Homo sapiens: one gene and its partners. The protein of the gene in region 2 purifies or fractionates together with the protein of the main gene of each other region. This does not show direct contact. Each region holds a gene or a part of one and is shown on either strand. Other genes may lie near its edges. The genes, in order: PIP4K2B, TAOK2 and ARB2A.

The links.
Region 1: the proteins of TAOK2 (region 2) and PIP4K2B purify together in Homo sapiens (affinity purification with mass spectrometry; one large-scale study listed by BioGRID and IntAct). This does not show direct contact.
Region 3: the proteins of TAOK2 (region 2) and ARB2A purify together in Homo sapiens (affinity purification with mass spectrometry; one large-scale study listed by BioGRID and IntAct). This does not show direct contact.

What each region holds. Positions count from the first base shown.
Region 1 is NC_000017.11:38,765,060-38,768,575, reverse strand, and holds the end of PIP4K2B (phosphatidylinositol 5-phosphate 4-kinase type-2 beta), read left to right. Parts: 3' UTR 1-2,885; downstream 2,886-3,516. UniProt on the Homo sapiens protein: Participates in the biosynthesis of phosphatidylinositol 4,5-bisphosphate. Preferentially utilizes GTP, rather than ATP, for PI(5)P phosphorylation and its activity reflects changes in direct proportion to the physiological GTP concentration.
Region 2 is NC_000016.10:29,986,351-29,989,013, forward strand, and holds the end of TAOK2 (serine/threonine-protein kinase TAO2), read left to right. Parts: coding exon 1-1,630; 3' UTR 1,631-2,008; downstream 2,009-2,663. UniProt on the Homo sapiens protein: Serine/threonine-protein kinase involved in different processes such as membrane blebbing and apoptotic bodies formation DNA damage response and MAPK14/p38 MAPK stress-activated MAPK cascade.
Region 3 is NC_000005.10:94,108,841-94,113,104, forward strand, and holds the start of ARB2A (cotranscriptional regulator ARB2A isoform 1 precursor), read right to left. Parts: upstream 2,824-4,264; 5' UTR 2,671-2,823; exon of another isoform or gene 2,348-2,670; intron 1-2,347. UniProt on the Homo sapiens protein: Plays a role in the regulation of alternative splicing, by interacting with AGO2 and CHD7. Seems to be required for stabilizing protein-protein interactions at the chromatin-spliceosome interface. May have hydrolase activity.

The DNA of each region.
Region 1 (3,516 bases), on a different chromosome or scaffold from region 2:
AGATCTGTCTCCCTGTGCCTGGAGAGTTACAGCCAGCAAGGTGCCCCCATCTTAGAGTGTGGTGTCCAAACGTGAGGTGGCTTCCTAGTTACATGAGGATGTGATCCAGGAAATCCAGTTTGGAGGCTTGATGTGGGTTTTGACCTGGCCTCAGCCTTGGGGCTGTTTTTCCTTGTTGCCCCGCTCTAGACTTTTAGCAGATCTGCAGCCCACAGGCTTTTTTGGAAGGAGTGGCTTCCTGCAGGTGTTCCACCTGCCTTCGGAGCCTGCCACCCAGGCCCTCAGAACTGAGCCACAGGCTGCTCTGGCCAGGAGAGAAACAGCTCTGTTGTTCTGCATTGGGGGAGGTACATTCCTGCATCTTCTCACCCCCTCAACCAGGAACTGGGGATTTGGGATGAGATATGGTCAGACTTGTAGATAACCCCAAAGATGTGAAGATCGCTTGTGAAACCATTTTGAATGAATAGATTGGTTTCCTGTGGCTCCCTCCAAACCTGGCCAAGCCCAGCTTCCGAAGCAGGAACCAGCACTGTCTCTGTGCCTGACTCACAGCATATAGGTCAGGAAAGAATGGAGACGGCATTCTTGGACTTCACTGGGGCTGCTGGATTGGATGGGAAACCTTCTGGAAGAGGCAGATGGGGGTCAAACCACTGCCTTGGCCCCAGGAAGGGGCCATAGGTAGGTCTGAACAACTGCCGCAAGACCACTACATGACTTAGGGAACTTGAAACCAACTGGCTCATGGAGAAAACAAATTTGACTTGGGAAAGGGATTATGTAGGAATAATGTTTGGACTTGATTTCCCCACGTCATAATGAAGAATGGAAGTTTGGATCTGCTCCTCGTCAGGCGCAGCATCTCTGAAGCTTGGAAAGCTGTCTTCCAGCAGCCTCCGTGGCCTCGGGTTCCTACCGGCTTCTCTGCATTTGGTCTGCTGATCATGTTGCCATAATGTGTATGGAAAGTGTAACACATTCTTACTGGTTAAAGACGACTACCAGGTATCTAACTTGTTTAACATTGAGTTTGTGTGTGTGTGTGTATGTTTGTGTGTTTTGTATATTGTTTACATTTTGAGAGGTAGCATTCTGTTTCAAATGCTTTTTGTTTTTCTGACAGTATTGTTGACTGGGTCATAACATTTTGAGCTGTGGTTTGGTGGATTTTCAATTTTTTTTTTTAAAGGTCATTCGCTGTGCTATCTTCAAAACCTTGAGTTTGGCCCCCAATTTTTGGCATTCAAATGTTTAAAAGCTATTTATCTTGGTTTATACAAGTTTCCTTTCTCTTCTTTTTGTCATGGTATTCTATTTGGTCTGCAGTTTGAATGTAGAGAAAGTGGACTGATCCCCCAAGCGTTGTCTGCCCCCACTCTTTCCTCCTTGGGTCCCGCCATTCTTTTACTGGGCAGTCGAGGGCATTGGAGGGGAAGTGACTGCCCTCAGCCTCACTCCCTGGGGCCATGAAGAAAAGCTAAACAGTCTCATGGCATCTCAGAATAATGTTGGGTCTCCCAAGAAGAAAGGTGTAAGAATAACGACATGGCTGATTAGGCGAGGCCAGGATAGGGCTAAGGCCAGGATTCCTGGCTGGCATCCAGTCACCCCTTCTCCCATCCTTCCCCCTCTTCTTCCACAAGTCCGCAGCCGAGACACTGTAGTCTCCCAGCCACAGTGATGAGTGCCCTGGAGACTCCACTGACCTCTAGATGAAGGCCCCTGGCCCTGGTTCCTGTTAATTAACCTCTGGGTCTTTGAGTCCCCCAGCACAAACTTCTTTCCTGTACCCTGCGGCTTGGGGTCACAGGGCATGCCGGGAAGCCACAGCTGAGGGGCGCAGACTGAAGCAGTGCTCCACCTCTCCTTCTTTAGCTCAGGGGTTGCTGGTCTGTGGCAGGCGCCACGAGTGGCCCCTGTGGCTGTTCTCAGTGGCAGTCTCTTAAGTTCCCACCACAGGCAGCTCTTTATCCCCTCTCCCTACTTGACTCTTTCTCTTGCCTGTGCTTTTGGCCTCAAACAGGCCTGCTGGTAGCGCTCAGGGCGTGAGGCTACACTCCTGCCCTGCCTTTCCTGTCTTCATGGTCTGCCAGGGCATACCTTGGGGAGGTGGACCAAAGACCCAGGACTTTTTGCAGTAGCCAGTCCTACCCCCCAGTTGTCTTTTTACCAATTCAGGGTGGGAGAGAAAACTGCAGCACCCCAGCATGTGAGTTACTCAGGTGTTGGGGGCTAGAAGGGACAGTGCGTTTAAACAACACTCAGAGCTCTGGCCTTAAACCTGTGGCCCCCCAAGTCTAGGAGCCTCATCTCTTCCTGGCAGTCATGCGGGCAGGAGGTCCTGAAAGGGAAAACCCATTCAGACAACTGTTCCCCAATCTACCAGCCATCTGCAGGGGTCAGTGACCGTGGCCCTCTCCCTCCTCTAGAATGTGCCACTTATGAAGAGTGCCCCATGGGGAAAAGGAGACTCAGCTGTCCCTTGGCAGCTTGTGCCAGTATCCCAGGGCAGAAGTTTCCACAGGAGCCTCTTGCCCTTGCGCAGAGCCACTGTGAGAGGCGGTGGGAGCCAACACCCTTGGGGGAGGGGGCAGTACTGCTCGGCACATCCCAGCATCAGGTCAGATCATTGAAATTAAAAAATGTGAATTAAGTTCATATCCACCTTTTGGGGAAGCAGGACAAACCACCACCCCACCAAGTGTGTGACTTCTCCATATCCCACTGCAGTTTCCATTTTTTAAATGGGAATTTTCAATCCCCTGTGCTTGTCTAACGTCTGCTTTAAAAAGTTTGAGACCCTGTTACTGTTTGAAAATGCATGCATGTTACGATGAATCTCCAACCTGAGGAAAAAAATAAAACTCAAAAAGCTTTGTGTACATCTGTTATGTGTGAGTCCTTGGGAAATGAACCTTTTTTTTTTCTTCCCAGAATTAAAAAGTTTTGGTCCTAGCTTTAGAGGCAGCTTCGGCTAAATCAATGTATGGCTTGAGTTTGGAGAAAGAATATGGTCAATGACATCCCGCTTTCAGATGCAATTAATAAACAGTGGTTAAAAGCACAGCACCACTGGCTGGGTTTGGTGGCTCACGCCCAGTACTTGGGGAGGCCAAGGCAGGAGGATCACTTGAGCCCAGAAGTTCAGTACCGGTCTGGGTAACATAGTGAGACCCCGTCTCTACAAAACAAGAATTAGCTGGATGTGATGGCACATGTCTGTAGTCCCAGCTACTCAGGAGGCTGAGGCAGGAGGATCACTTGAGCTTGGGAGGTTGAGGCTGCAGTTAGCCATGATTGCACCACAGCACTCCAGCCCTAGCAACAATGAGACTCTTAAGGAAAAAACAAACAAAACACCACAGCACCAGAGCCAATCTGCCTGTTAGCTGTTACTACCATGCACATGGAAGAATGGACAACCCCCCCCCCGCCCCCCCGCCTCCAGCTGTGTAGAACGAACTCTGGCTAGGAGCCACTCACCTGACATAACTTTGAACATGTCACCTCTGT
Region 2 (2,663 bases):
GCAGCTCCAGGCCGTGCAGCGCACGCGGGCTGAGCTCACCCGCCTGCAGCACCAGACGGAGCTGGGCAACCAGCTGGAGTACAACAAGCGGCGTGAGCAAGAGTTGCGGCAGAAGCATGCGGCCCAGGTTCGCCAGCAGCCCAAGAGCCTCAAAGTACGTGCAGGCCAGCGCCCCCCGGGCCTTCCACTCCCCATTCCTGGGGCTCTGGGCCCACCCAACACAGGCACCCCTATAGAACAGCAGCCCTGCTCACCTGGCCAGGAGGCAGTCCTGGACCAAAGAATGCTTGGCGAGGAGGAGGAAGCAGTTGGAGAGAGAAGGATTCTGGGAAAGGAAGGGGCCACTTTGGAGCCCAAGCAGCAGAGGATTCTGGGGGAAGAATCAGGAGCCCCTAGTCCCAGTCCACAAAAACATGGGAGCCTGGTTGATGAGGAAGTTTGGGGTCTGCCTGAGGAGATAGAGGAGCTTAGGGTGCCCTCCCTTGTACCCCAGGAGAGGAGCATTGTTGGCCAGGAGGAGGCTGGGACATGGAGCTTGTGGGGGAAGGAGGATGAGAGTCTTCTGGATGAGGAGTTTGAGCTTGGCTGGGTCCAGGGCCCAGCACTGACTCCCGTCCCTGAGGAGGAGGAAGAAGAGGAAGAGGGGGCTCCGATTGGGACCCCTAGGGATCCTGGAGATGGTTGTCCTTCCCCCGACATCCCTCCTGAACCCCCTCCAACACACCTGAGGCCCTGCCCTGCCAGCCAGCTCCCTGGACTCCTGTCCCATGGCCTCCTGGCCGGCCTCTCCTTTGCAGTGGGGTCCTCCTCTGGCCTCCTGCCCCTCCTGCTGCTGCTGCTGCTTCCATTGCTGGCAGCCCAGGGTGGGGGTGGCCTGCAGGCAGCGCTGCTGGCCCTTGAGGTGGGGCTGGTGGGTCTGGGGGCCTCCTACCTGCTCCTTTGTACAGCCCTGCACCTGCCCTCCAGTCTTTTCCTACTCCTGGCCCAGGGTACCGCACTGGGGGCCGTCCTGGGCCTGAGCTGGCGCCGAGGCCTCATGGGTGTTCCCCTGGGCCTTGGAGCTGCCTGGCTCTTAGCTTGGCCAGGCCTAGCTCTACCTCTGGTGGCTATGGCAGCGGGGGGCAGATGGGTGCGGCAGCAGGGCCCCCGGGTGCGCCGGGGCATATCTCGACTCTGGTTGCGGGTTCTGCTGCGCCTGTCACCCATGGCCTTCCGGGCCCTGCAGGGCTGTGGGGCTGTGGGGGACCGGGGTCTGTTTGCACTGTACCCCAAAACCAACAAGGATGGCTTCCGCAGCCGCCTGCCCGTCCCTGGGCCCCGGCGGCGTAATCCCCGCACCACCCAACACCCATTAGCTCTGTTGGCAAGGGTCTGGGTCCTGTGCAAGGGCTGGAACTGGCGTCTGGCACGGGCCAGCCAGGGTTTAGCATCCCACTTGCCCCCGTGGGCCATCCACACACTGGCCAGCTGGGGCCTGCTTCGGGGTGAACGGCCCACCCGAATCCCCCGGCTACTACCACGCAGCCAGCGCCAGCTAGGGCCCCCTGCCTCCCGCCAGCCACTGCCAGGGACTCTAGCCGGGCGGAGGTCACGCACCCGCCAGTCCCGGGCCCTGCCCCCCTGGAGGTAGCTGACTCCAGCCCTTCCAGCCCAAATCTAGAGCATTGAGCACTTTATCTCCCACGACTCAGTGAAGTTTCTCCAGTCCCTAGTCCTCTCTTTTCACCCACCTTCCTCAGTTTGCTCACTTACCCCAGGCCCAGCCCTTCGGACCTCTAGACAGGCAGCCTCCTCAGCTGTGGAGTCCAGCAGTCACTCTGTGTTCTCCTGGCGCTCCTCCCCTAAGTTATTGCTGTTCGCCCGCTGTGTGTGCTCATCCTCACCCTCATTGACTCAGGCCTGGGGCCAGGGGTGGTGGAGGGTGGGAAGAGTCATGTTTTTTTTCTCCTCTTTGATTTTGTTTTTCTGTCTCCCTTCCAACCTGTCCCCTTCCCCCCACCAAAAAAAGAAAAAGACAAACACAAATAAAATATCTGAGCGGAACTGTGCCTTTGGCCCAGGCTGCCTCTGTCTGCTTTGTCCTGCCGCCTAGCCTCCCCGGTATGCCCCCAGGCTGACCCTCGGCCCGGCTCCATGACCTCTTCACCCCATCTCCGTTATCTCAGCCCCCTCACTCCTCCAGCCTCATGCTCTCTGCCTTCATAGCTTCATTGCACCATGACCACCACCGGCTCTGGGGTCTGGGCCCCTGTAGAACTTCACCGAACTTCTTGGTCCCACAGAGCGCCTGTTTGCGGGTTCCTTCCAGAGGTCTTAGTTTCCAGGCCCTTGGTCTCCTCATCCCTTGCCTTTTCTCCCAACCATGGCTGCAGGGGACCAAATTGCTCTCCTGCATCAGGCATTACCCTAGTGGGTTGGGGGACGGGGCTGCAGACCCTCCACAGTAGGGGGTGCTGAGCTGGGGGCAACCAGGCGGAGTATGAAGGCTGTGGCAGCAGGATTGAGTGTGGGCCTGGAGTGGGAGCTGAGTGTGTGAGGGGCCGGGCTGGAATGCGGATCTGGTCAGGGTGGTAGCTGCTGGCCGGTTGAACTTGTCAGGCCCTTTCTGGCCACCTCCTTTGCCCCTTTCTCCTCTGCGGCCCAAAATGGGGCAGCCCCTTCTT
Region 3 (4,264 bases), on a different chromosome or scaffold from region 2:
GTGTCAATTCCTCGAAAAAAAGTATACATATAGATATATATACATATAAAATTTCCATGTGATCTAGCAATTTCCCTTCTGGAGAGATATCGAAAAGAAATGAAAGCAGAGAGTTGAACAGATATTTGCACTCTCATGTTCATAGCAGCATTATTCACAATAACCAAAGGATGGAAACAACCCAAGCATCCATGGATGAATGAATGGATAAACAAAATGTATTAACAGCATATGCACACAATGGATAATTGTATTTCACCTTAAAAAGAACATTCTGACACACGCTACAACATGGACGAACGTTGGAGACATTATACTAAGTGAAATAAGCCAGTCACAAAAGGTCAAATAGTGCATGATTCCACTTATATGAGGTACCTAGAGTAGTCAAATTCATAGAGGCAGAAAGTAAATTGGCAGTTGTCAGGGGCTGAAGGTAACAGAAAACGAGGTGTGAGTGTTTAATAGGTATGAAGTTTCAGTTGGGGATGATGAAAAACTTCTGAGTGAAAAATAAAGTTGGCATAGTACAGGGACATACTCCATACTTAGTTACCAATGACTACTGTGCAAACCCAATCTGACTCTAAAAACAGAGACAGTACAAGTTGTATACAACTGAGTAAATAGTGCTTACTTTTGTTAGAGCTCAATGAAGAGCACAGAAACATCTCTACATATCTACAGACACCAGATTCTCCTCAGAGGTTTGTCTGGGAAAGCTGAAAAAAATAAACTGTAAATAAATAAAATCCCTCATGCCACCAAATCAAGGAATAAATATTCATTCTTGAGATTGTTAAGTACTGCTACCTCCATGCCTACATCCTTGCTATTCCAAATATATCAAACACGCTCCTGTCTCAGTGCCTTTGTACTAGGCCAACTCATTCCTCCATACTTGCGGAGCTCACTCCCTCATTTCATTCAGATCTCCACTCAAGTGTTCCCTTATCAGAGAGGGTGAGCTTACCACCCTATCTAAAATAGCATCCTCTATCATTCTCTCTCCCCTTAATTTATTTTTCTCTATACCTCTTTTTTTTTTTTTTTTTTTTTCTGGAGACGGAGTCTCGATCTGTCACCCAGGCTGGAGTGCAGTGGCATGATGTCGGCTCACTGCAACCTCCGCCTTCCCGGTTCAAGCAATTCTCCTGCCTCAGCCTCCAGAGTAGCTGGGAATACAGGCGCACGCCACCACACCCAGCTAATTTTTTTGTATTTTAGTAGAGACGGGGTTCACCGTGTTGCCCAGGCTGGTCTCAAACTCCAGGGATCAGGCAATCCGTCCGCCTCGGCCTCCCAAAATGCTAGGATTACAGGCGTGAGCCACCGCGCCCTGCCTTTCTCTATACCTCTTAATCACTACTTGTTATATATTTACTTGTTAATTATACGTCTCCATCCACTAGAATGTAAGTTCCAGGAGCAAAAGGACTTTCTATTTTGTTTACTGCTGTCTTCCCATCACCTGAACACTATCCGGCACACTGAAGGTTGCCAGTAAATACTTGCTAAATGGATAAACAAGTGGATGCTCATGGTTTCATAGATAATATTTCCCTCTTGGCCTTGGTACTATTTATTCTACCATATGGAGCAGCCATAGCCTGAAAGCATCCAGAGCATCCTTAACTTTTCAGCGTAGGATTCACTGGTTAAGTGGAAGTAAGGCCTAGTTGAAAATTCTGAAAGAAGCCTGGTACCAGCACTGTCACTGAGGCCTTAACGAAGCAGATCCAAAAATACTCTCTTACTCAGTTTCTACATTCGCTAAATGTATACAGTGTAACCGTCCCTCGCATTGTAGGATAAAGAATACACCTTATCAATGAGATATTTGTTATGCAGTATATGGCATGCGTTAATGCAAACGATGTCATGTACTACATTAAAAAATCGCACTGATATTTTGATAAATATACAATGCACTTGTAGATAAAAACCAGAGAATTTTTCCCTCTACAGCTTTTTTGAGGATTTGGGAGAAATGGACAAATGCAACAACATTGCATGTCATTAAATACAGTATATCCAAACACAACGAGTTTCTTGGCCCAACAGATATAGACCCTGGAGCACTATAAGAATATGTTAAACACCTGGATGAGGGAAAGAGAAGACTGCTTCCAAAACATACTTACTTTATTTCAAAGTCAAAAGTATTCAACACTTAATTCATACTGCATCCCAGAGAAACGTCCCACCCGCGCCCATGCATGTTACAAGTTTTGAGAGCATTTTATAACTGCACTTTAATCCCTCTGCAGTGAATGACTTCTGGTAAAGCGCTGGCAGTTAATAATACTTTTTGTAGAAAAAAAAATTAATACAACAACCACAATACCTCCACTCGCAAGAAAGCGGAGGAGGGCCCATTACTCTGTCTCCAGGGACTCCCAGAATCCCGTACGCCCCGACATAAGGAAAGTCATCCAGGGAACACACACGTCGCTCCCGCCTAGAGAGTGGAAATGGAACATGGGACCTGCCCATCAGCGGAGGCCCAGACACAAGTCAGAGGTGTCCGCAGGGAATGCAGCGTGGTTCCAGACAGCCTCGGTCCCCAGGGCCAGCGACCACCGCCTGAGACCGACCCAGGCCAGCCCCCTCCTGATTTCGACCCGGGCCTGCCCCCGGAGCTCACATCCCCGCAAACGGCAGTCCTACCTGAGCTCTGCCCCCAGCCACAGGGCTGAGGGGGCAGGCGGGAGGAGGCGTGGCCTTCCAGTTCGCCAGTCGAACTCCCTCGTGCGGTTGTTATGACTTTCCCTCTCGGGATCCGCGCCCCGACCAAGTTCGAGTTGCACTTCCGGGGTCTTCAGGAGATTGATACGTCATTACGCACTTGACGGCAGCGGCGGCGACAACCCGGAAACGGGCGGGGCGCGGGCCCTGGGTAGGTTCCTGTGGTATTAGGTGGACTGGAGAAAGAGGCCCGCGTGAATTAAGTGTAGTTCTCTTATGCACTGGCGGACTCTGGTCGCCCTTCCTTGTGAAGGCTGCCTGGGTAGCCGTAGAGGACGAGGCCACTCTAAAGCCTCGTTTTCCCAGCGGAATTTTAACTATTCTAAGGATGTCCTTACAGCCAGTTCCCCACTCCGCTACTCAGAGTGTGTCAGACTTTACCCTGTCCATTCAACTCCAGAAAAACCGGGAGGTCTAGATTCGGAAGATTAAATTTACCTTTGAATTAGGACATGTAAAATAGGAAGTTAATATTAGCATCCTAATGACAAAAGTTTTCTCGTTATCATACTTGACTCAAATGGGAATCTTACGGATATTAATGTTTTTTCCAGAAACAGGTTTGAAAGGTATTTCAAGGATAAATCTGGGGAAAGGGATGGAAGCAACTGATTTTTAATTTTTAGATAGTACTCTCAGAGCATTTATTTAGTCCAAAACTGTTAATTTAATGAATTAGGCTAAACTAGACGCTGGGGTAACAAAGCTGAGTTAGATACCCTCTCCTCTGAGGCAGCTAAAGAGAAGGAAAGTCTGGTGGCTGACAAGTAAACCAACAGTTATGTTCTTCAGAGAGGAGATCTCAGACTCTCTAAGGTATACTTCACTTCCACACTGTTTGTACTTTGCAAATGTACCCTGCCCCCTAAAATGTAAACTCACTGATGGTAGTGACATAATCTTGTCTTTTTAATGTATCCTCAACCATACAACAGTGCCTGTCCACAAAGTAGACAATAAATACTTATTGAATGACTGAATGATCACAGTGGTAAATAATAGATTGGGGAAATCTAGAAAAGTGTATAGGACAAGAAGAAAGTGGTGTAAGTAAGTGGCGGGAGATAAGGAGCAGTAAAAGGTGAGAGAATCCACTGGAGTTAGCCAGAACTGAGTACCTGAATGAATCTCGGGCATTGCAAGACTGTTAGGGCTTCATTTCCGGAAAGAACTCAAATGGTTTGTAGAGTGACACTTTATACTGAAGAGGAAGGCAACAGCCAGATTCTGAAAAGCTTTCTATGTCATGCTGAGTAATTTGATTTTCTGCTGCAGACAATTGGGGAAGCTGAAGGATTGTTGAACAGAGGAGGGAAACATTTTTATTTTGGTGGACTTTTGCAACAGTGACAGATTATATTAAAAAGATAAGGCTCCCAAAAATGTATAATCCCAGTTTAACCATGAGAAAAACATCAGACAAAATACCTGACCAGTACTACTCCAAACAGTTAAAGTCATGAAAAACAAGGAAAGTCTGAGAAACTGTCTGAGCCAAGAGGAGCCTAAAGAGACC